3 linked regions of the Homo sapiens genome follow. The protein of the gene in region 3 interacts with the protein of the main gene of each other region in a pairwise test. Each region holds a gene or a part of one and is shown on either strand. Other genes may lie near its edges.

Region 1 (7,000 bases), on a different chromosome or scaffold from region 3:
AGAAGTATATGAAACAAGTGTAAATAGTAAATCATCCTTATAAAATATAGTGCTTAGTTTTAAGCAGGTTATCAAAAGCCTATGCTAAGAAGCCTCCACTGGTAACATCCCTTTTAAGAAATAAAAATGTTAGCCTAGCCATCTTCTTTCCCTAATGTTAGTGACTGACAATTATGATTAATTTCTATCTTACAACACTTAGCTAGGGAGCTCCAATCCATATTTCTAGTGTCTATACTTTCCTATTCCACATCTTCAGTTAACTGTAAGTTAGAGATTTCTATACTATACTGTTTTCAATAAGAAGTCCGGGTTGTGTACTCATTCCTCCACTATACACCTGTGAACAAATTTACTGTCTTTCCCACTGACAGTCCGGTTGTCATTATACATCTCACTGCTAACAACCCTTAGTGTATCAAATGACACTACCCACACCCCAAATCTTGCTATACATTATTCAAAGTTTACCTTACTTTAAGTCCACTATATCTATTCACATTTATATGCTCTTAGTCAGAAAATAAAATACCTCTCTTGAAATGGGCCTGACTCCGGAGAGGGAGACCAGATTCGCTCCGCCTCCCGGGTTCCCGCCATTCTCCTGCCTCAGCCTCCCCAGTAGCTCTGACTACAGGCGCCCGCCACCTCGACCGGCTCATTTTTTTGTATTTTTTAGTAGAGACGGGGTTTCACCGTGTTAGCCAGGATGGTCTCGATCTCCCAACCTCGTGATCCGCCCGCCCGCCTCGGCCTCCCAAAGTGCTGGGATTACCGGCATTAGCCACCGCGCCCGGCCAGGTTTAAATCTTGAGTCTACCACTTTCTTCTAACTGTAATCTTGGGCAAGTTACTTACATTTCCTATACTTTACTTTCCTCATCTGTCAAATGAAGCTAATAACTACCTATTTATGGGATATTTTGAGTATTAAACGAATGAGTACATGTAAAACACTCAGAACGGTGTTTGGTGTTTGACTAATACTTTATCAGAATTTGCTATCATTATTATTTGGTAATGATAATCTTTTCACCTTTACTTAAGTTGTTCCCTAGCAAGAAATATTTCTCCCCTTTTTCTGTCTACTTAAATTGTAACAATCCTTGAGTTCCCATTGCCTCCATCAACATCTTCTGACCATGTAAATTTGCTTATTCTGATGTTTCCCAAAGCACTTATTTATTGGTGTATTGTTTATTTTGGTGTTTCAAAATTTCTCATGAATGTGTAACTGGTTTGCCATTATAGTCAGCAGTTCTGCGGTAAATGACCACGAGTTATATTTCTTTTGAACCCTTTGCAGAACCATCATAAACTGTACTACCACTTAAGGTGTGTGGTCAATAAAAATTGGTTAAGGTAGATTTATTCCAGAAACCAACAGCTTTAAATAACAAATGTATTTTAGATGACTAATTTAAATTTGTATTCATTTTGACTTTTATTTAATGGCTTTTCAAAGACTAAGTTTACAATTTCATTTCCTCTAGGTGCTTGCTCTCTTTCTACTCCTCCATGTGCCTACCAAACCGCTTCTCTAATCTCTGAACATACTGAGCCGCTTTTCATTTCCTAAACACGTCAAATGCTTTCACATCTGCATGCCTTTGCACGTTGCTCAATTTGCCTGAAAATTCCTTTCCTCACTGCTCCCTGGCTCCCTCATCTTCCCCAACCCCGAGCAGACACACTTCCTGTAAGTCAACCAGTTCTAGGGAGTTCTTTTTTCAAGACCCAGCATATCAGGCCTTTGATGCTTCCCTAACACTTCAAGAAGGATGGCTCTCTCTTCCCTCAGTATAGCTCTATTTAGCATCGATTACACTCTTCTGTGAGTCTTTGATGTCCTGTCTCTCCCGTAGCTCCGGACACCTCTAAGAAATAAACCAGATTTTATCCACCTCAGCTTCCACAGAGCCTAGCACAGTGCTTTATTCTTAAAAAAAAGAAAATTAATTAATTGTTACATAATTTTACATATTTGGGAAAATTTCATCACAAGCTTTTTATTTTTCCTTTTCTTACAAAACTATCATTTAGTTTTATTGTGTTTTCTAAGGAGAAGGGGCTTATTCACCTTTAAGAAATTAACCTGTTATATAGAATCTTCCAATTCTGAATGAGATTCAAGATATCATAAAATAAGCTTAAATAACCCTCCTGCGGTACCTTTTAAAATAGAGAAACTAGCCGAATTTTAATGCAGGATTCACGTTTTAGCTATACGCCTCTAAAAGGGGCAGAGGAGATCTATATATAAGGGACAATCAATCCTGAAAGGTTATTATTACTGCTACTTTTTAAAACATTCAGAAATGCTTTGGATCTTAATGATACTTTGATTTAAAGGTAAAGATGAAATGACTGCTGAATACAATTCACAAACGCGTAATTCCACAACTTTAGACGTCAATAAAGTTTGCTTAAGAGAAAATGCCTATGAATTACCTATTTGCCTTGTGTTTCACTTGAAAAGTGCAATATTGCGACAATGATTTGGCTACTGGAAGTGGGATATGGGTTTCCTGGAGGAGACTGAAGCAAACTTCAGAGTAAAAGGAGAATCTCCTATATGAAAACCTTCTGTATCCTGGGTAACAAAATTTGTCTGCTTTGCTTGACTGATGAAGATTAGCTGACTTCCCGCATTAGTTTGTCTTGTAGGGGCTGAAGTGACAAGACAATAACTAAGTGCTAATTGTGCATAACCGGCACTAAAGATATGCAGTCCCATTATGGCATGTAATAAATGAAGCGAACACAGAAATATATTAGGTACTTTAATAATGATACTAGAATAGTATTTCGCAGCAATAAGAATGTGAACAGTTTTAGAGTCAAAATTTAGGAGTGTTTGTCTTACTTGACTGAGTTCTCCTGAGGAGACAGACTTAATTGTGAATGCAACTTTTTATTTCAATGGTGAAATAAAATAGATATATGATTTGTAAATAGCATTAACAACCTACAATTACTTTGCATCATAATAGAATTTAGGCTGGGTTTAGCACTTGAATGTTTTTATTTTCTATGTAGAACATGGATAAAATAGGTAACCCTACTTAATAGAAGAAAATGGACAAAGGACATAAACTGCCTACTTCTCTAAAAGAAGGAATACCAAAGGACCACCAGGGATCAAATAAATGCCAGTTAGAAATTATAATGAAATACTATCTTTCATCCCTTAAGGTGGCAAGGATTTTTTTTTTTTTTTTTTAAACGTAATTCCTAGTGTTTTAGAATGAATGTGAGGGAATGCGTAGTTTTGTAGATTTCTGCTAGGAGAATAATTGGTATAACTTTCCTGGAGATCATTAAGCAATGTACAGCATATGCCTTCAAACTGTTATATACCTTGTTTAAGTAATCATGCTCTGTGAATTTAACCAGATAGAGATATGAGCATTTGTTTTTATACAATCTGAATATCTACATTTAGCAAGAAACTCTATTGTGATATATGTCTTGTGGGAAAGTCAAGTTAGTGGACTATTATTTGGTAAATTATAAAAATAACTAACTTTTGAGAACCAGTTGTGTTCCTGACATTTAACATAAATTATTTTATTGAAGTTTCAGACTCTGCAAGAGAGGTATTAGTGTTTCTATTTTGTAGGTGTGGGAATCAAATTCAGAGAGATTAAGTAACATACTCAAGATCACACAGTTAATATATCAGCTACTATATGGTGGTGCTGAAATCTGAATCTCTTCTCACTATAAATGTCACATTCTTTCTACTATTCTACAGGGTCTCATAAGGTCCATTTTTATATTGATAATACTGATAATATTTACAGCACAAAAACTTTTGAAGATACAACTTATATATCTGATGATAGAAGACATATGTGAAGCTCTGTCCATAAAGCTGAACTCAGAAAAGCTTAAAATATCTTAAAAGAATTTTTAATGGCAGGTAAAAAAGGCACAAAATATAAATTGAGTGAAAAAGTCCAAATATCAAACATTAGGATTCTCCCTTGTAACTTTAATTTGCTTAAATGTGAGTGTAATATTTATACAATGTCATTTGTCCTATAGACATAGGAACATGTATGGCTGGCTATATATCAAAATATTAAAATGTTTTCTTTTAGAAGAATGAGACATGGGACAATGTCTTGTTTTTATCATTTTCTATTTTCTAAATTTCCTACTATGAATATGTAATCTTTTATAAGTAGAAAAGCAATGACTTTATGATTCCATAATGGGAACTGCATGGTTACTGGCTGCTATTAGTTGATCAACATGACAAGTCAACAAAAGTATTCTAAATTTACTACTAAGACACCTTTAAAATGTATAAAATACATATATACATGCACATAAAGGTGTCTGTATGGATGTGGGAATGTTTGTGTTTGTATATCCTTATCCCTACCAAAAACATGTGCATTTGCCAATTTATTTTCGTCTAAATGTTACCCTAGACTGAATGAACTTACTTTGATTCTCAGTACTTGCTGGGAAGAGTCAAGACATTGTAAGATAACATCTTACATGACTGTCTGGGTAACTATTACATTATAAGGTACATTAGGCAACAATCTGAATATCTACATTTAGCAAGAAACACTATTGTGATACATGCCTTGTGGGAAAGTCAAGTTAATGGAATATTATTTGGTAAATTATAAAGATAACTAACTTTTGAGAACCTGTTGTGTTCCTGACATTTAATATAAATTAATTATTTCATTTAAGTTTCAAACTCTGCAAGAGAGGTGTTAGTGTTTCTATTTTATGGGTGTGGGAATCAAATTCAGAGAGATTAAGTAACATACTCAAGATCACACAGCTAATATATCAGCTAATATATGGTGGTGCTGAAATTTGAATCCCGTTCTCACTAGAAATGTCACATTCTTTCTACTATTCTACAGGGTCTCATAAGAAGATTCTGCATCAAATAGTACCTTTCAGAGTAAATTACAATAACTGAGAACTTGATGCAACTAATATTTATTGATTATATACTCTGCCAGGTGTTCTCACAGAAAGTCAGTGAATTCATTTTCATTAAAATCTATCAAGTGTTCTAATTTTTGAAATGTTGTATTTTTAATACGTACATTTTAATGTTCTAAAATCCTCTCCATTTATCATATAAAACAGGTGCCAGTAGTATATAGTTTTCACAGAAATAAAAAATATAACTTTCAATAAGAAAAAATGGAATTAAGTGATAATACTTTTCAGCTGAAAGAATTCTCTGAGATGAACTAATCCAGCTTCATATGTTACAAATGAAAAACCTGAGGTCCAGAGAGGGAAGGTGTTTGTTTGGTTTAAGATCGCACAGCTTATTAGTGGCAGAGCCCATATTAGAATTTAGGTTTCCAGGTTCCCTGTTCAACACTTTTTCAAATGCTCCTCTCCAATGATAATAATTGTTTAATTATTAGCTATATCTGGACTGATTCTCAAAGATATTTGAAGTAACTGCAAAAGTACATATAGGACAGGGTTAAAATTTAAGGTAAACAGCTAGATTGGGTGGGGGTGGTGGCTCATGCCTATAATCCCTGCACTTTGGGAGGTGGAGGTGGGAGGATTGCTTGAGGCCAGGAGTTTGAGACCAGCCTGGGTAACATAGTGAAACTCCATCATCTCTATAAAAAATGAAAAAAAAAAAAAATTAGCCAGGCATGGGAGTGCACACCTGTACTCCCAGCTACTCGGGAGGCTGAGGCAGGAGGATTGCTTGAGCACAGAAGTTGAGGCTGCATGAGCCATGTTAGTGCCACTGCGCTCTAGGCTGGGTGACAGAACCAGACCTTGTATTTAAAAAAGCAAAAACAAAAACATGAGGGATAAGGAATTTAAAATATAAAAAATAATAAGAATATAAAATACCTGCAACAAATTCCTGTATATTTGCTTCATTGCCAATTTATTTACTCACATAAGTAGTATAAAAAAGTAGATATTTAAAACTACTTTTAAAAAGACAGGAAAATAATAAAAGAAGGAATGAGTAAAAGAAGTCAGAGTTTACGGTAGTGTTTCCATTTTCTGTTACTTGCTCTTATATGATGCTTTTCTTTCAGGTAGAAGTAAGTCTTAAGACCTTTCTTCTCCTTAGTAGCTTGTCTCTGGCATGGGATTAAAGTTTACAGAACAGAAAAACGCTGAGATTGATTGCTTTAAATGTATGAATATAATTTCCACCTATTAAATAAATAGCCAGCACAGAGAGGTTAACCATTTCTTAGAGACCAAAAAGAGACCTGCTTACCTCTGATTACAAAGCTGACATGCAAAGCAGTCCAGGTGGTAAACATTGTCCTTGGCACGCATCACCATCTCAAAGGCAGGGATGAGCTTACTACAGGCAGCGCAGTTTCCCGTTACACCAAAGAGCCTAGAATAAGAAACATTTTTTTTTTTTTACAAACTCTTACAGAGAAATCTGAGATCGTGAAGAGAGATGATGTTAATATACTCTGTAAAGCTACAATACACAATGCTTTATGATGTACACAAGTGGATTTTATCCTAGGTGTATGCATAAATATTCTTCTGCAATATATTCTCCGTTGACCTTCCTTGATGAAAATCACATCTTGTTTGAGAAGAAAAGGAAAAGACAAATACATTAGGAAGCTTACGTAACTGCACATAAACAGAAGTCAATGGGGGTGAATTCATAGCAAAAATCTCTGGGTTAGAGTATATAGAAAATATAAAAGCAATATAACTTTGCTCTTAATGTTATATATTAAACATTTTAGTTGGGAAAGGAACCAACTAATGAATGATTCACTACTTTTTGACATTTAGTTACTAAAAGGTTTGCCATTATTATTAAAAATACATTTATGAAGAAGCCATTTAAATAGTCAAAAAACATAGAGGCGCATGCATGCACCTTATGGCTCTATACCATAGTTATAGCTATGATTATGTTATTCAAGTAGCACATTAAAGTAAATGAGGCTGTAAACTATATATAGCTAGACCAGAAATTGAAGGATAATATACTGTC
Region 2 (7,456 bases), on a different chromosome or scaffold from region 3:
CTCACTGCAACCTCCACCTCCTGGGTTCAAGCGATTCTCCTGCCTCAGCCTCCCAAGTAGCTGGGATTACAGGCCTGCACCATCACGCCTGGCTAATTTTAGTATTTTTAATAGAAATGGGGTTTCACCATTTTGGCTAGGCTGATCTTGAACTCCTGGCCTCAGGTGATACACCCGCCTTGGCCTCCCAAAGTGCTGGGATTACAGGCGTGAGCCACCACGCCTGGCCTCAGTAAAGCATCTGTACACAGAAACACTCATAAGACAAATGATGCATTGCTCAGCTGATGAGAACATTGGGGCCAGAGGCTCGCAGGACCCTAAGCCTGTGTCTCCCCTGGGAGCCATGGTTCAGCAGTCCAGGCATCACTAATTCAGTGCTCACAGCAGCTTTATAGAACACCCCTACCTCTAGAAACAACTGCTATGAATGCAGCAATTGCTAGAACTTAGCCCAGCAAAAGGGGATTTTGTGCTGACATGATTTGCATGGACAGTGGCTGGGAATCAGGAAAAGAACACTGACTTGTCTTTGGTTTCATTCTGGTTTTTCATTTTCCGCAGACATCATATCCCTCAGTGCACTGGCTGTCACCTCCCCCTGCCCGCCACCTGCACACTGTGGCTTTGAGGCAGCATCTTCAACACAAATTTCAGGAGGAGCCCAGGTCCAGAGCAAAAGGGTCTTGTTTCCCCAGAATCCAGGCGAATGGCGCAGGGCTCTGGCAGGCGGATGCACTGACATCAGCGTGCATTTACTTGTTTGTTGCTTGTCTCTACCCAAGAGAATATCAGCTCCAGAAAAGCAGGGACTTTGTTTAACACAGCGTTAAGAGACAGGACTCGACCAGTGTGGATCAATTAAGTGAGGATGTTTGCACAGCAGGCTCCGGGCCAGCGAGTGGGGGTTAAGGCTCCTGAAAGTAGCCGGCTTTGAGATGTGGTGGGGGTGATCCTGAATTATCCAGGTGGGCTGAGAGCGTAATTGCCAGGTGGATGTGATGGGAGAGACCTCACCGCCCACCACTGCCTTTGAAGGTGGAGGAGGGGCCACGAGCCAAGAAAGGCAGGTGCCTTGAGATGCCAGAGAAGGCAAGAAACAGACTCCCCTGAGCCTCCAGCAGGAGCCAGCCCTGCCAGTGTCTTGCTTTAAGTTGAATGAGACACATTTCAGACTTGTGGCCTCCAGAACTGTGAGAGAAGACGTTTGTGTTGTTTTAAGCCACTAAGTCTGTGATTGGTACATCAGCCACAAGACACTAATACAACACCTAAACTCGGGGTTTGAAAAGGCCCCTAGGGCCCTAGAGCCCTCCCTGCCCCCGGTCCAGGCCTTCCTGCTTCTGTTGTGCAGACTCAGGCGCTGGCTCACTCAGAAGCCCCCTGCAGGCCCGGCCAATCCTGTGGCAGAGCCTCGACGTCCCACGGCGGCCTCTGAGCCGCCAGGCCCTACAGCGTGTGGTGAGGGGCGCAAGAGGTGTGAGTGCCTGGACCTTGCTCTGCCCCGTGTCTGAGGACCTTGCCCTGCCCCGTGTCTGAGGACCTTGCCCCATCCTCGGCACCCAGAGCTGTGCAGTCCATAGGACCAGGCTGGTGCCCAGCCCCAGGTTGGTGCCTCAGCTGCCTCCTCAGCCTGCAGTCTCCACTGTTTGACTGACCATGTGCAGGGCCAGCTGTGAAGGACAGCACAGCTCCTCCCTCCCTGCCAAGTGTCAGGGGCACTAAAAACACTGCCATCAATGTTCTGATGTTTAAATCATGTTTTGATGCAATGTTTAAACAAATCAAAATGGGTCGGGCGCAGTGGCTCACGCCTGTAATCCCATCACTCTGGGAGGCCGAAGCGAGTGGATCACCAGAGATCAGGAGTTCGAGACCAGCCTGGCCAACACGGCGAAACCTCATCTCTACTAAAAATATAAAAATTAGCTGGGTGTAGTGGTGTGTGCCTGTAATCTCAGCTACTTGGGAGGCTGAGGCAGGAGAATCGTTTGAACCCGGGAGGCAGAGGTTGCAGTGAGCTGAGATTGTGCCACTGCACTCCAGCCTGGGCGACAGAGCGAGACTCCATCTCAAAAATAAATAAATAAAATAAATAAGTAAATCAAAATGAATGCAAAAAATTTGTGGTGGACAAACTGTCAACATTTTACATAAAGCCAGGATGAGGACGACGGCCTTCTCCTTTTGCTTCAAGCTCCAGCATGGCTCTGCCCAGCACTGACCGTGCTCCTGGCCTGGCTCGACCCTCCCCAGGGCCAAGCTCCATGCTGGTTTCCATCCCAAAGGACTCTTCTTCCCCCTCCCTGTGCCCCGGGAATAGGCAGCCAGCACAGTGGGGCCGCCCGCTGCCTCACCCAGACCCTGCCACTGCTTGGATGTTGACCCCCAGACTGGAAAGGTGGCTTTAAACCCCCTTCCCTTCTTCCAAGCCAAGTGACCTGGGCGTGCGGCTTAACCTTCTAAGCTCCCATTTCCTGGTCTATGAAGCGGGAATGATGCTGGGACCTGCTTCACAGGGTGGCTCTGAGGACCCACAGGCAGAGAGGTCTGGTGTAGGCTTTCGGGGGAAGCACCCATCACTCTCCCAGCGTTTCCTATCTGCACCTTAATTTGGCACCCCAGGGAATCGCTCCTCTGGAATTGTAACCTTGCAGGGCAAAAGCTATCATTTCAAGATTTTTTGGGATCCTGTGTCCCCGGACAGTGCTGTAAATGTAGGAGGAAGGGTGCTGCTCATGGGTGCTGCTCATGATGGAGGTGCCCCGTGGAGCACGCCTCGGAGCCCCCCCTTTCATCCCTGATCCCATCTGGGATGTGTCAGGTCTGATCCGCATACACTGGGGCATCTGACATTTCATGGCCTTCTGAGCCCATGGGCTGGAGATGAATTTGCAAAGCCCGGGAGTGTCCTGGGTGTGTGTTCACTCCACACGCACGAATCTGTTAGAGGCTGAGTAGGAACTAGGAGGCCAAAGAGAACCAGGCAACTTCCCACAGCCTGGACCGTACACTAGAAAAGCTAGCCTGGGAGAGGGGGCATGGCCTCTTCCCAGGCTGGCAGGGGGGATGTGGGGGAGGACCATGCTCCCCAGGGCCAGTTTACCAAAATATCAAAATACCAAAATATCAAAAGACTTAAAACTAGGAGTGAGCCAGGTGCAGTGGCTCACGCCTGTAATCCTACACTTTGAGAGGCCAAGGCAGGTGGGTCACCTGAGGTCAAGAGTTTGAGACCAGCCTGGCCAACACGGTGAAACCCTGTCTCTACTAAAAATACAAAAATAATAATAATAATAATAATAATAATAATTAGCCAGGTGTGGTGGCAGGCACCTGCAGTCTCAGCTACTCAGGAGGCTGAGGTGGGAGAATTGTTTGAACCTGGGAGGCAGAGGTTGCAGTGAGCTGAGATCGCGCCACTATATGATCTGGGCGCCACTCTGGGTGACACAGCAAGACTCCATCTCAAAAACAAACAAACAAAACCGGGAGTGCCTGGACACTTAGTGAGAACTGGACAGGGGCCATGGGTCGAGGAGCAAAATAATCACCAGGACTTGTGGATAACAGGATCATGTGGGTGGTGGGTCCGCATGGGTGACAGGGACGTGGGGACATGTCGCCACCCTGACAGGAGCAGCCCAACTCAACAGCCACGGCAGGTCATGCCACGGAGGCTCGAGGCGTTACGTGGGGATGTTACATCAAGGCATTACATCATTACGAGATGTAACGCTCGAGGCGTTACATCGAGGGGACGATGGCCATGGGGCTGGGCGTCCAGGGTGGGCCGCAGAGGGAAGCTCACCACGTGGTGCTCTCATCTGCCCACAGCCCAGCCCGTCTTCCTGTTGGAGGCATGTGACCCCTGGAGGACAAGCATGAAACGCCATAGGGCTCCCCCAGGTGCTGGAATTATGGCACCTTGCAGCTTCTTCTCCACGAGTTTTAACAAGCATGCGTACTTTTGTAAGTGGTGAGTGTAACGGAGGTTCACAGATGCACTCCGCTTTGGAAACCAGTGCACTCTTGCCCAGGCCCGGTGAGACTCTGAGGACGATGTGTCTAACCTCTGTGTCTAACGGGGGTGTGTGCTCTCCCTCCTCTGGCGACCATGAGGACCACCCCGGCAGGACAAGGTGTGCAGAGAACTAGCATGGTCCCTGGCACGTAGCCCCTGCCCAGTGACTGGCAGATGAGAAGCTCCATTGTCGCCCCAGGCGAGTATGGGGCACAGGCGCCTCCTTGGGTTGTCTGCCCTCCCGGGAGCCCCAGGGTGCCCAGGCGGGCCTCAGCTGAGTCCAGGCCTCGGGGACAGTCCGTGCAGCCCCTCCTGGGGCTGGGGGCGGGCACTTGTCCCAGCCACGTTTCTGCTGACTGAGCAGCCTTCTTCATGAGCTCACGCCTTTCCAGAGAAATCCCTTAATGCCTCCATTCTGCTGGTGGCATATATAGGGAGGGCTCGGCCTTGGCTCCACACTGCGCTGCCCAGAGGCCCCGCTGACTCCTGCCAGCCTCCAGGTCCCCGTGGTACCAAAGCTGAACATGGACGTGACCATCCAGCACCCCTGGTTCAAGCGCACCCTGGGGCCCTTCTACCCCAGCCGGCTGTTCGACCAGTTTTTCGGCGAGGGCCTTTTTGAGTATGACCTGCTGCCCTTCCTGTCGTCCACCATCAGCCCCTACTACCGCCAGTCCCTCTTCCGCACCGTGCTGGACTCCGGCATCTCTGAGGTAAGACGTGGCCCGTGGTGCTGGCCTCTCCTCGCTGCTCAGAGGGTGGTGGCCTCGGTGGGTGGAGAGCGATGGACTCTGGTCTTGCTCCGTCAGGCAGGTGGCCTCGTCCCACTTCATCCCCTTGCAGAGGCTGGGCGAGAGCCTGTGTCCCCACTGCAGCCACGTGGCAGAGCTTCCCCTGGCACTGGGGAGAGGGTGGACAAGGGAGCAGCCTGAATCCACCTTTGCTTTCCTCCATCAGCTCATGACCCATGTGTGCTTTGTAAGGCACCAGCCACATACTGGAAACCCCAAGAGCAGCCCATCCAGGCATGCGTGGTGGCGAATGCCAGCTCCCGGGTTCCTCTGGTCTCCTGAGTCCCGGAGACCTGGGAGCAGGTGGGGGTCATAGTCCTGAAAGCCAGAGAGCAGGGCGTTCCTAGCACCTCCTCCAATGAGCTCGGCCTGCCCACGGCTAGCAAAGCTCTTGGCAAGTTTACTTAGGTGCCCTGCCAAGGCTAAAAGGACAGGCAATGGACGCCCCCCCCCCCACCCAACCACAGGCCTCCTCTCTGAGCCACGGGTGAGCGGTGCAGGTTCTGCTGTTCTGGAGGGCCTGAGTCCCACCCAGCACCTCATAAACAGGGTCCTCCCCAGGGCTGCTGCAGTAGGCATCAACGCCAGGGTGCAAAATGCCTCAGGGAGCCAAGGCTGAGCCAGGGGAGTGAGAAGGAGCATGTGGAAGTGCGTTTTGGAGAGGCAGCTGCGCAGGCTGTCAGCAGGCTCCGGCCGCTTCTATAGACAGCATGACACCAAGGGCAGTGACCTCATTCCACAGGCTGAGTCCAGCCAGCCAGCCAAGCATCACCAGCCAGACGATTGACCCTAACGGACCAACCAACCCGTAACGACCCCTCCTACCATAACCAGTAGCCAGCCAGCCCATAACCAGCCAACTTATCTATAACCAGCCACCTGACCATAGCCAAACAACCAGCCGGCCCACCAGTAGCATTCAGCCCCTCAGCTGGCCCTGAGGGTTTGGAGACAGGTCGAGGGTCATGCCTGTCTGTCCAGGAGACAGTCACAGGCCCCCGAAAGCTCTGCCCCACTTGGTGTGTGGGAGAAGAGGCCGGCAGGTGACCGAAGCATCTCTGTTCTGATAACCGGGACCCGCCCTGTCTCTGCCAACCCCAGCAGGGACGGCACCCTCTGGGCAGCTCCACATGGCACGTTTGGATTTCAGGTTCGATCCGACCGGGACAAGTTCGTCATCTTCCTCGATGTGAAGCACTTCTCCCCGGAGGACCTCACCGTGAAGGTGCAGGACGACTTTGTGGAGATCCACGGAAAGCACAACGAGCGCCAGGTGAGCCCAGGCACTGAGAGGTGGGAGAGGGGGGCGAGTTGGGCGCGAGGACAAGGGGGTCACGGCGGGCACGACCGGGCCTGCACACCTGCACCATGCCTTCAACCCTGGGAGAGGGACGCTCTCCAGGGGACCCCGAATCAGGCCTGGCTTTTCCCCAAGGGAGGGGCCGTGCCCACCTGAGCACAGCCAGCCCCTCCCGGTGACAGAGGTCACCATTCCCGAGCTAATGTGGCTCAGGGATCCAGGTTAGGGTCCCTTCCCGGGCTGCACCCAGCCGTCGCCAGCTCCATCCCTGTCACCTGGATGCCAGGGTGGTCTTAGAAAGAACCCCAGGAAGTGGGAGTGCCCCGGGTGGCCGCCTCCTAGCCAGTGTACATCTTCACATGAACCCTACCTGAGGAAGCCAGTCCCCGACGGCATAGCTGCATCCGCTTGGAATGCTTTACAGGCATTGACACCTTCGCCTCACAGCAGCACTTTGGAACCAGTGTCCTCATTATTCCAGGGCACGGCTGGGGAACAAGGGGGTCCTCAGCCTGCTGGGTCCCACAGCTAGTACCGGGCAGGTGGACGGGAGCTTCTCCCCACAGTCACCCTGATGCCCCGCTCTTGCTCGGCTGGAGGCCTCGGATCTCCGTGGTGTTGAGGGAGCCGGGGCACTGGAGCCCTGGTGACCTGCATCTCCTGGCGGAGCCGGGAAGAGCTCATGGACTGTCACAGATGGACAGTGCCCCGCGGGGGCTGGAGAGCAGAGTGGGGCTGGAAGGTGGAACTCTTAGCCAAAGTCTTGGTTTCTTTTGGCCAGGGTCCTCTTTCAATGGCTGGAGAAGGTGGTGCTGGGGGGTGAACGCTGACCTCCTCATGTGCTGCCCCTCCCTCGCCTGGGCCCGGTAAAGCCCCCACGTAGCCCCAGCCAGCCTGGAACATGCTTCCTGAGCTCCCAGCTCTTGGTCTTTGCACCCAGTGGAGGAGGAGGTCAGCCCAGGGAGCTGAGTCTGCGGTTTAGGGCGTCCAGGGGACGTGGAAGCATGTGGGTCGTCTGGCCACATTAGGTAGGGCTGCAGAGACCTGGGCTAGAGCAGTCCTGCGGGGTCTGGAAGGGGAAGACTGGCTGAGGTGCGGGGCCTGGTCTGGAATGATCCTGCGATTTTGGAGTGAAGCCATGGAGCGGGAAGAGACAACCCCCCGCGGGGAATAGCCCGGCAAGTGGCCACGAGGCCAGGCTGAGGTCCAGAGAAGCAGGGGCATGAATCCATAAATCCCAGGGGGCCTGGCCATGGGATGTGCTGGCTGCACCCGGCCCCTGTGAGAGCCCCCGCAGGCTGGCCCCCTTCTGCAGTCAGTGGGGCTGGGGCAGCTTCTCTG
Region 3 (7,102 bases):
TGGGTGAATGAAAGTCATCGCTTAGTAGCCTTTTGGAACAGACTGACAGCATGTCAATGAACCTTGCAAAATCCTGTTACTCAAAAATAATAATAGGATAATTAGCCTCTTGATTGAGTCTTCCATCTCACCCCATATTAAAGAAATAGTGGCTAGCATTCTCCTCATTTGGATTCCTGAAACTGGATTCTGTTTTTAAATTTCCTTGGAGGAGATTTTCTTATAATACTCATTCTTAAGTGTTTGCAGTCTTAGGCTAGTGAAATAGTACAATCTAATGACCTGCTCGAGAGTTTTCTTTATCTCACCCTGGGTAAGTTATTAAATAACTTTTATATTTTTTCTTAGATATCTTAATGCAATTCAGACAATGTGTCCACACATTCTTCGCTATTTGACTACAGCAGTCATAACAAACAAGGATGTTCGAAAACGTCGGCAGGTTCTAAAAGATCTAGTTAAAGTTATTCAACAGGTAAAACTAAAATATATATTGATTTTTTTTTTTAAATACCTAAGCTTTAGGTCTAACCTCTTTTTCTAAGGTAAGACTTAGTTCTTAAGGTACAAACGTTTTTAAAAATAGGTGGAAGGAATACTTGAAGTTTAGAAAAGAGAAGACCCTCAAATGGGCTTTTGTTTTCCTTAAGTCCAAGATACACAAGTTGGATGTGGTAGGAATGATTATTACTGTCTGCTAGATGAACACTTAATATATACATTATGTGTATGTGTTTCTCTTATTGCAAAGAGTGAAGAAAATCTGGAACCTGGAGGTGGGGGTCATTACCTGTGTAATTCTACATGGGTGAACTTTATATACAATACCGTTTCAATAGACCCCAAGTTGGGCAAAAGGTTTCAGGCAGCCATGCTGATTGATATTTAGTGAGCTTGTCAGCAAAACCCGTAGATTAGAAATATAACTTAAATATTTATTTAAGAGTGTATTAAATACAAAGAAGTTATTGTCATTCAGTAGGGAATGAATACCCTTATGATTGGGGAAGTTTATTACTGTTTATTGACCAAGGGAGACTTTTGGTAGTAGAGGAATTTGAAAGCTTTCAGAATGCTTCTAGGATGAGACTTTAGAGAACTTGGTTTGAAAGACATAATAAGCTTAAGGTGTGGTCTGGAATCAGGATAGGAACAATTGTTTTGGGAAGATGCTAGGTAATTTGGCTAGAAATTAATGGTAAAGAAGGAGAAAACAAGAAGATTGGGATATTCTGGGGCAATCTGCTAAACAATGTTGAATCAGACTTACCTTGACCGTTGACTTATTTTTACAGGAGTCTTACACATATAAAGACCCAATTACAGAATTTGTTGAATGTTTATATGTTAACTTTGACTTTGATGGGGCTCAGAAAAAGCTGAGGGAATGTGAATCAGTAAGTGTGAATTTTTATTTATAAACTAATACTATTCTTAAATTTTTGGATATTGTAACGTTAATCTTGCAGTGTCTTCCTTAAAGTAATGAAGTAATTATAACGGAAATATGCTTATTAATCTTAAAAAGGCCTAAATGGCTCATGTTTATTAACCTTAAAATGGCTTAAATGGCTTGTGTTTATTAATCTTAAAATGGGAATGTGCTAGAGTGATGACTTTTTTAATGTTGTTGCCATGTGTTTATCCCTTTTGTGAGGGAGTTTGTTAAAACATTGGGGGTAATTTAAATTTACAGACATATCCATAATTTCATGTCTTAAATCTCGAATGAATATTTTTAATATTTCATATGTACAGGCAAGGTCACTTTGAATTGCAAATAACAACTGTGTTTTTAATTTTGGTTCATAGATGGGCTTATCTTTAGAATATTTCCCATGGTTGTATTTAACATTTGTGATAAACCAGGCAATTCATTGTAATTACGAATTTTATAACGGCGGTGTCTCTTATTGTTTAGTAGAAATTAAAGTACCTTTAGAGCAAATGGAAGACTTATAGTTGTTTTGAATAATTAGTTTACAAGTTTTAAGAAACTAAACTAAGAATTCTAACTGCTAAATGTAGTTGCATTTACCAGATTCACAAGTTACTGGTTATCAGTTTCACCCTTGGAACCAAAATTTTGGCACAAAATGGGCAATTTGTTGACAAATATCTTACTTCTCTAAGGAAAAAAATGATCATGCAAATATCCATTCCCTGATGATTTTCTTATTTTATTTTTTTTCAGACAGAGTCTCACTCTGTTGCCGAGGCTGGAGTGCAGTGGCATGATCCCGGCTCACTGCAAACTCCACCTCCCGGGTTCACACCATTCTCCTGCCTCAGCCTCCCAAGTAGCTGGGACCATAGGCGCCCACCACCACGCCCGGTTAATTTTTTGTATTTTTAGTAGAGACAGGGTTTCACCATGTTAGCCAGGATGGTCTCGATCTCCTGATCTTGTGATCTGCCCACCTCGGCCTCCCAAAGTGCTGGGATTACAGGCGTCAGCCACCGCACCTGGCCTCCCTGATGATTTTCAAACATTAGATGGAATAGAAAATTAGAATCCAATATGGTAATTGGTGTTTTTTTTTGTAGTCATATATTGCATTATTAAGGTAAATATTGGCGTATATTCATTATGCTAAGTGTCTAGGTTTTGATGTTAAAAGACCTAGAGGGTACTTGGTTGCTGTTCTTGAAATTAAAATATTCTCTCTTAATTACACCATCTGTGGAATAGTAGCCACCTTTTGCATTCTTTTCCTTCTAATTTCTAAGTCTACTTAATATTGTAGAAATACTCCGAGCTTGTAGTCCATTTATAATTATTTTAAATAGTTGGAAGAGATAACATTATCTGCAGAGCATTTATGTAGAATAATGGATAGTACCAAACTTTGTTGTCAGAAGGCTACTTTATTAAAGTTATCAGAAACATTGCAGTTTTTAGGTCTTTATCTTGTGGTATTCGTTTACTACTTATTTAAATCATTAAAGATTTGAACACAGTGTTCTAGAAAGTGCTGTGGTATAAAACTCATGATTGTAGAATGGAAAAATAAAGCAGATAAAGTATTTGATTCACGTTTCAGGCAATTGCTTGTCAGCATCATTAATTTTTGTTGTATTTGTACATATAGGTGCTTGTGAATGACTTCTTCTTGGTGGCTTGTCTTGAGGATTTCATTGAAAATGCCCGTCTCTTCATATTTGAGACTTTCTGTCGCATCCACCAGTGTATCAGCATTAAGTAAGAACACCGTGATTTGATTTGGATTTTCTACTTTAAAATTCCTGGAAATTTCCATTTATTGTGAATTTACACTTAATAGAATTCCAGTTAATTGGATTTTTATTTATTTTTGCTTTCAGAAGAACAATGAAACAATTTGATAAAATTATTTAAAAACCTAACTTTTGCTACAGGCTCAGATAGTTTTAGCTTGAGTGGCATAATTTTTCAAAATACTAAGTTGAAGGCAATATATGATTATCAGTTACCTTATTGAAGAGTAAATACTCTTGTACCTTTACGTAAGGAGAAAAGTGTAGTAAACATTTCTAAAATGGTTTTCAACAACAGTACAAAGGAGATACCCATTAAATTGGAAATTCTGTTGAAAGACCACTACATTTGGTAATCCTTTCCATTTAGTTTGTATGATTTAATTACATATTTGACTTCTCCTATAGTAAACTCCTATGGCATCTTAAAATGTTGAAAGATGGAAAAATTATAGTGAATTTTAGTTGTAATTTCCTGTTTTGTCAGAAAATATTGGGAAAAAATTGTGAAATGTACATAACCTATTAGAAATAAATTGTACACATTACAGTTTGAAAAATGACTAGTGCCCTTTGGGCACAGAGGAAGTCAAACAAATGTTTAAAAACCTACTGCTTTAGTGTTTGCTTCTGAGGAATTGTGCATAAAACAAATTCTTTTTCTTTAATGCCATTTGTTTTTGCTTATCCATACTTCGCTTGCCTAATTTTAGTGGGCCGTCCGTTGAAGTGGTTGTCCAGAGTTAGAAGGATAGTATAATCATGGGATTTTTCCTATGGGAATTGAATCCTTGCCTTCACAGTTTTATTAGCACTTTACTGTAGCTTGCAGACAGAATTTTTTAAACCTGATTCTCTTACAAATTACATGAAAATTCCTAATAATGTAATTGGTTATGAAATAAAGAGGTAGGTACATCATATGTGGGGCTCCGGTGGATAGTAGTAACTGAATTCTTGCATTGTTCTTTGTTTTTAAGGTTTGTAATTAGGGCTTGTGAAAGAGGGATGTTAGTATTTTGGTTTCCCTTGTAGAATTTTCTCCATTTCTCATTAGAATGTGGTCATTTGGGTGCTTTTTGGTCCAGAACTGACTTAGCTACTACCGCTGTTGTGGGCCTTTTGAAAGCTGACCCTTTTTTTTGCATCTTTAGCACCTAACATACTAACTTTGTAGCACCTAATATGCTTTGTACAGTATAGTGTGAGTATACAATATAAATATTTGTTAAGTAAATTTCTTCTGTTATTAGTGAACTTGGCATTTTTGTCCATGATAATGCTTGTCTGCTTTGGTGTTTGCTTCCGAGGTACTATCAATAAGATTTGTTGTAGCTCTTTTCCTTTAACTCTGCAGCCATGTATTCATTATTTTCTTTCTTGGGATTTGGTTTATTATCTTTTAAGAGGAACATAGATTAAGTATGTGTTCTCCTTACTGAAGGGAGATGTGCAGCTCAAAGAAGTTAATAGAGTGGGAATGTTTCTATATACCTTTATGTGACACTACCTAAGAATTTTTCAGACTTTTCTCCGTGTAGATTTTTATTACTTCCTTGATCTCTGTAGTTTTCTGCTAGACAAAAATCTACAAAGCATTTTCAGACTAAAGTCCTAGTGGCTTTCCAGAGTCTAAAAATATTTTTTTTTCTAGTAGTAGCATTTTCTTTCACTTCAGTTCTTCAATTTTTTTTTCAATGTTTTACTAAGATGATTAAGAGTACATAGATCAATAATGTATGTTTTTCTTTTTCTTTCTTTTTTTGGGGGGAGACACAGTCCTGCACTGTTGCCTAGGCTTGGGTATAGTGGTGCGATCTCTGCTCACTGCAACCTCTGCCTCTCGCGTTCAAGAGATTCTCGTGCCTCAGCCTCCCAAGTAGCTGAGATTACAGGCATGTGCCACCACGCCCAGCTAATTTTTGTGCTTTTAGTAGAGATGGGGTTTCACCATGTTGGCCAGGCTTGTCTTGAACTCCTGGCCTCAAGTGATCTCCCTGCCTTGTTCTCCCAAAGTGCTGGGATTACAGGCGTGAGCCACTTGCGCCCAGCGTTTTTTCAAGTACTATGGTAGAATTTTCAATCTGAAAGAAATCTTAGGGATCTTCTGATCCAACAACACAGTTACTTTTCAGGTGAAGGACTTCTCAGTAGAATTTTCTGTAGTGATAGAAATGTTTTATATCTGAAAATGTGTTTCTATGTGTTCAGTACAGTATACTTCATAGATGGCTCACATTTCAAGATCTTGAAGTATGGTTTCCAAATCTCTGTGTGACAGTGGGACTTATTTTCAAATGTAATATCATATATATGAATATATGTATTTATATATGTGTATAAGCAGATCAAAGCAGAGCCCATTCACCGTGCCTATCTTACAGTTCTGTTCAGCTTCTCTCCTGACTACTAAGACACCTCTTTGGAACACAGTTTTACAAAACACTGACTCAGAACAACTGCATTGTTTTGTAGCCAGGAAATTTAAAGCTCAAGGACATTAAGCTAGGTCTTGATAGAGCCTGTACTAAAGGTATCTGACATTCATTGTACTGTACCTCACTGTAAGTTCTTTTATATTGTGAACAATTTATATTTTTAGAAATGTCAGGTTTAGATTAATTTGTCATTTAGTTTATCAGTTGAGCCAGAGGATAAAGATGAAAACCCTAAGTCACTTTAACTCTGTGTTTCAGAATCTTTGTAGAGTTTGTTTTATAAACTCCCTATAGCCACCCTAAACCATTGAATCAGATTTATTGAGTAGGCTATGCTATGATTTGCAGCAGGGCTGCTGTGCTGTATCTTGAGGGTGGTTATTCCGAAGCACAGCCAGAATCCAAAACCACTGCATTAGGTAACCAGTTTTTTAGGCGTGTAATTACAGCCTGCTAAAGTAATGGAGTGAAAAATCAGTAATTTAATACCTTTATTATATAATGAATTAAGAAGATAAGCTTCTTCGTGTTTCTAAGGATGCTTTAGTGGGTTAGAAAGACAAAAGAAACTACCATCAGAGTGAACAGACAACCTACAGAATAGGAGAAAATTTTTAGCATCTACCCATCTGACAAAGGGCTAATATCCAGAATCTACAAAGTACCTAAACAAATTTACAAGAAAAAAACAACCCCATCAAAAAGTGGGCAAAGGATATGAACAGATACTTCTGAAAAGAAGACATTTATGCAGCCAACAGACATATGAAAAAATGCTCATCATCACTGGCCATCAGAGAAATGCAAATCAAAACCACAATGAGATACCATCTCACACCAGTTAGAATGGCGATCATTAAAAAGTCAGGAAACAACAGGTGCTGGAGAGGATGTGGAGAAATAGGAACACTTTTACACTGTTGGTGGGACTGTAAACTAGTTCAACCATTGTGGAAGACAGTGTGGTGATTCCTCAAGGATCTAGAACTAGAAATACCATTTGACCCAGCCATCCCATTACTGGACATATACCCAAAGGATAATAAATCATGCTGCTATAAAGACACGTGCACACATATGTTTATTGAGGCACTATTCACAATAGCAAAGACTTGGAACCGACCCAAATGTTCATCAATGATAGACTGGATTAAGAAAATGTGACACATATACACCATGGAATACTATGCAGCCATAAAAAATGATGAGTTCATGTCCTTTGTAGGGACATGGATGAAGCTAGAAACCATCATTCTGAGCAAACTATCACAAGGACAGAAAACCAAACACCGCATGTTCTCACTCATAGGTGGGAATTGAACAATGAGAACACTTGGACACAGGGTGGGGAACATCACACACCGGGGCCTGTCGTGGGGTGGGGGGAGTGGGGAGGGATAGCATTAGGAGATATACCTAATGTAAAT

Evidence for each region.
Region 1: the proteins of EIF3E (region 3) and LMO3 interact in binary tests that used the Homo sapiens proteins (3 or more experiments, as listed by UniProt).
Region 2: the proteins of EIF3E (region 3) and CRYAA interact in binary tests that used the Homo sapiens proteins (3 or more experiments, as listed by UniProt).

Annotation. Positions count from the first base shown.
Region 1 is NC_000012.12:16,554,163-16,561,162, forward strand, and holds part of LMO3 (LIM domain only protein 3), read right to left. Parts: intron 6,377-7,000; coding exon 6,251-6,376; intron 1-6,250.
Region 2 is NC_000021.9:43,164,552-43,172,007, forward strand, and holds the start of CRYAA (alpha-crystallin A chain), read left to right. Parts: upstream 1-4,456; 5' UTR 4,457-4,548; coding exon 4,549-4,737; intron 4,738-5,684; exon of another isoform or gene 5,685-5,780; coding exon of another isoform or gene 5,781-5,858; intron 5,859-5,965; coding exon 5,966-6,088; intron 6,089-6,485; exon of another isoform or gene 6,486-7,031; intron 7,032-7,456. UniProt on the Homo sapiens protein: Contributes to the transparency and refractive index of the lens. In its oxidized form (absence of intramolecular disulfide bond), acts as a chaperone, preventing aggregation of various proteins under a wide range of stress conditions.
Region 3 is NC_000008.11:108,210,707-108,217,808, reverse strand, and holds part of EIF3E (eukaryotic translation initiation factor 3 subunit E), read left to right. Parts: intron 1-348; coding exon 349-475; intron 476-1,295; coding exon 1,296-1,397; intron 1,398-3,092; coding exon 3,093-3,202; intron 3,203-7,102. UniProt on the Homo sapiens protein: Component of the eukaryotic translation initiation factor 3 (eIF-3) complex, which is required for several steps in the initiation of protein synthesis.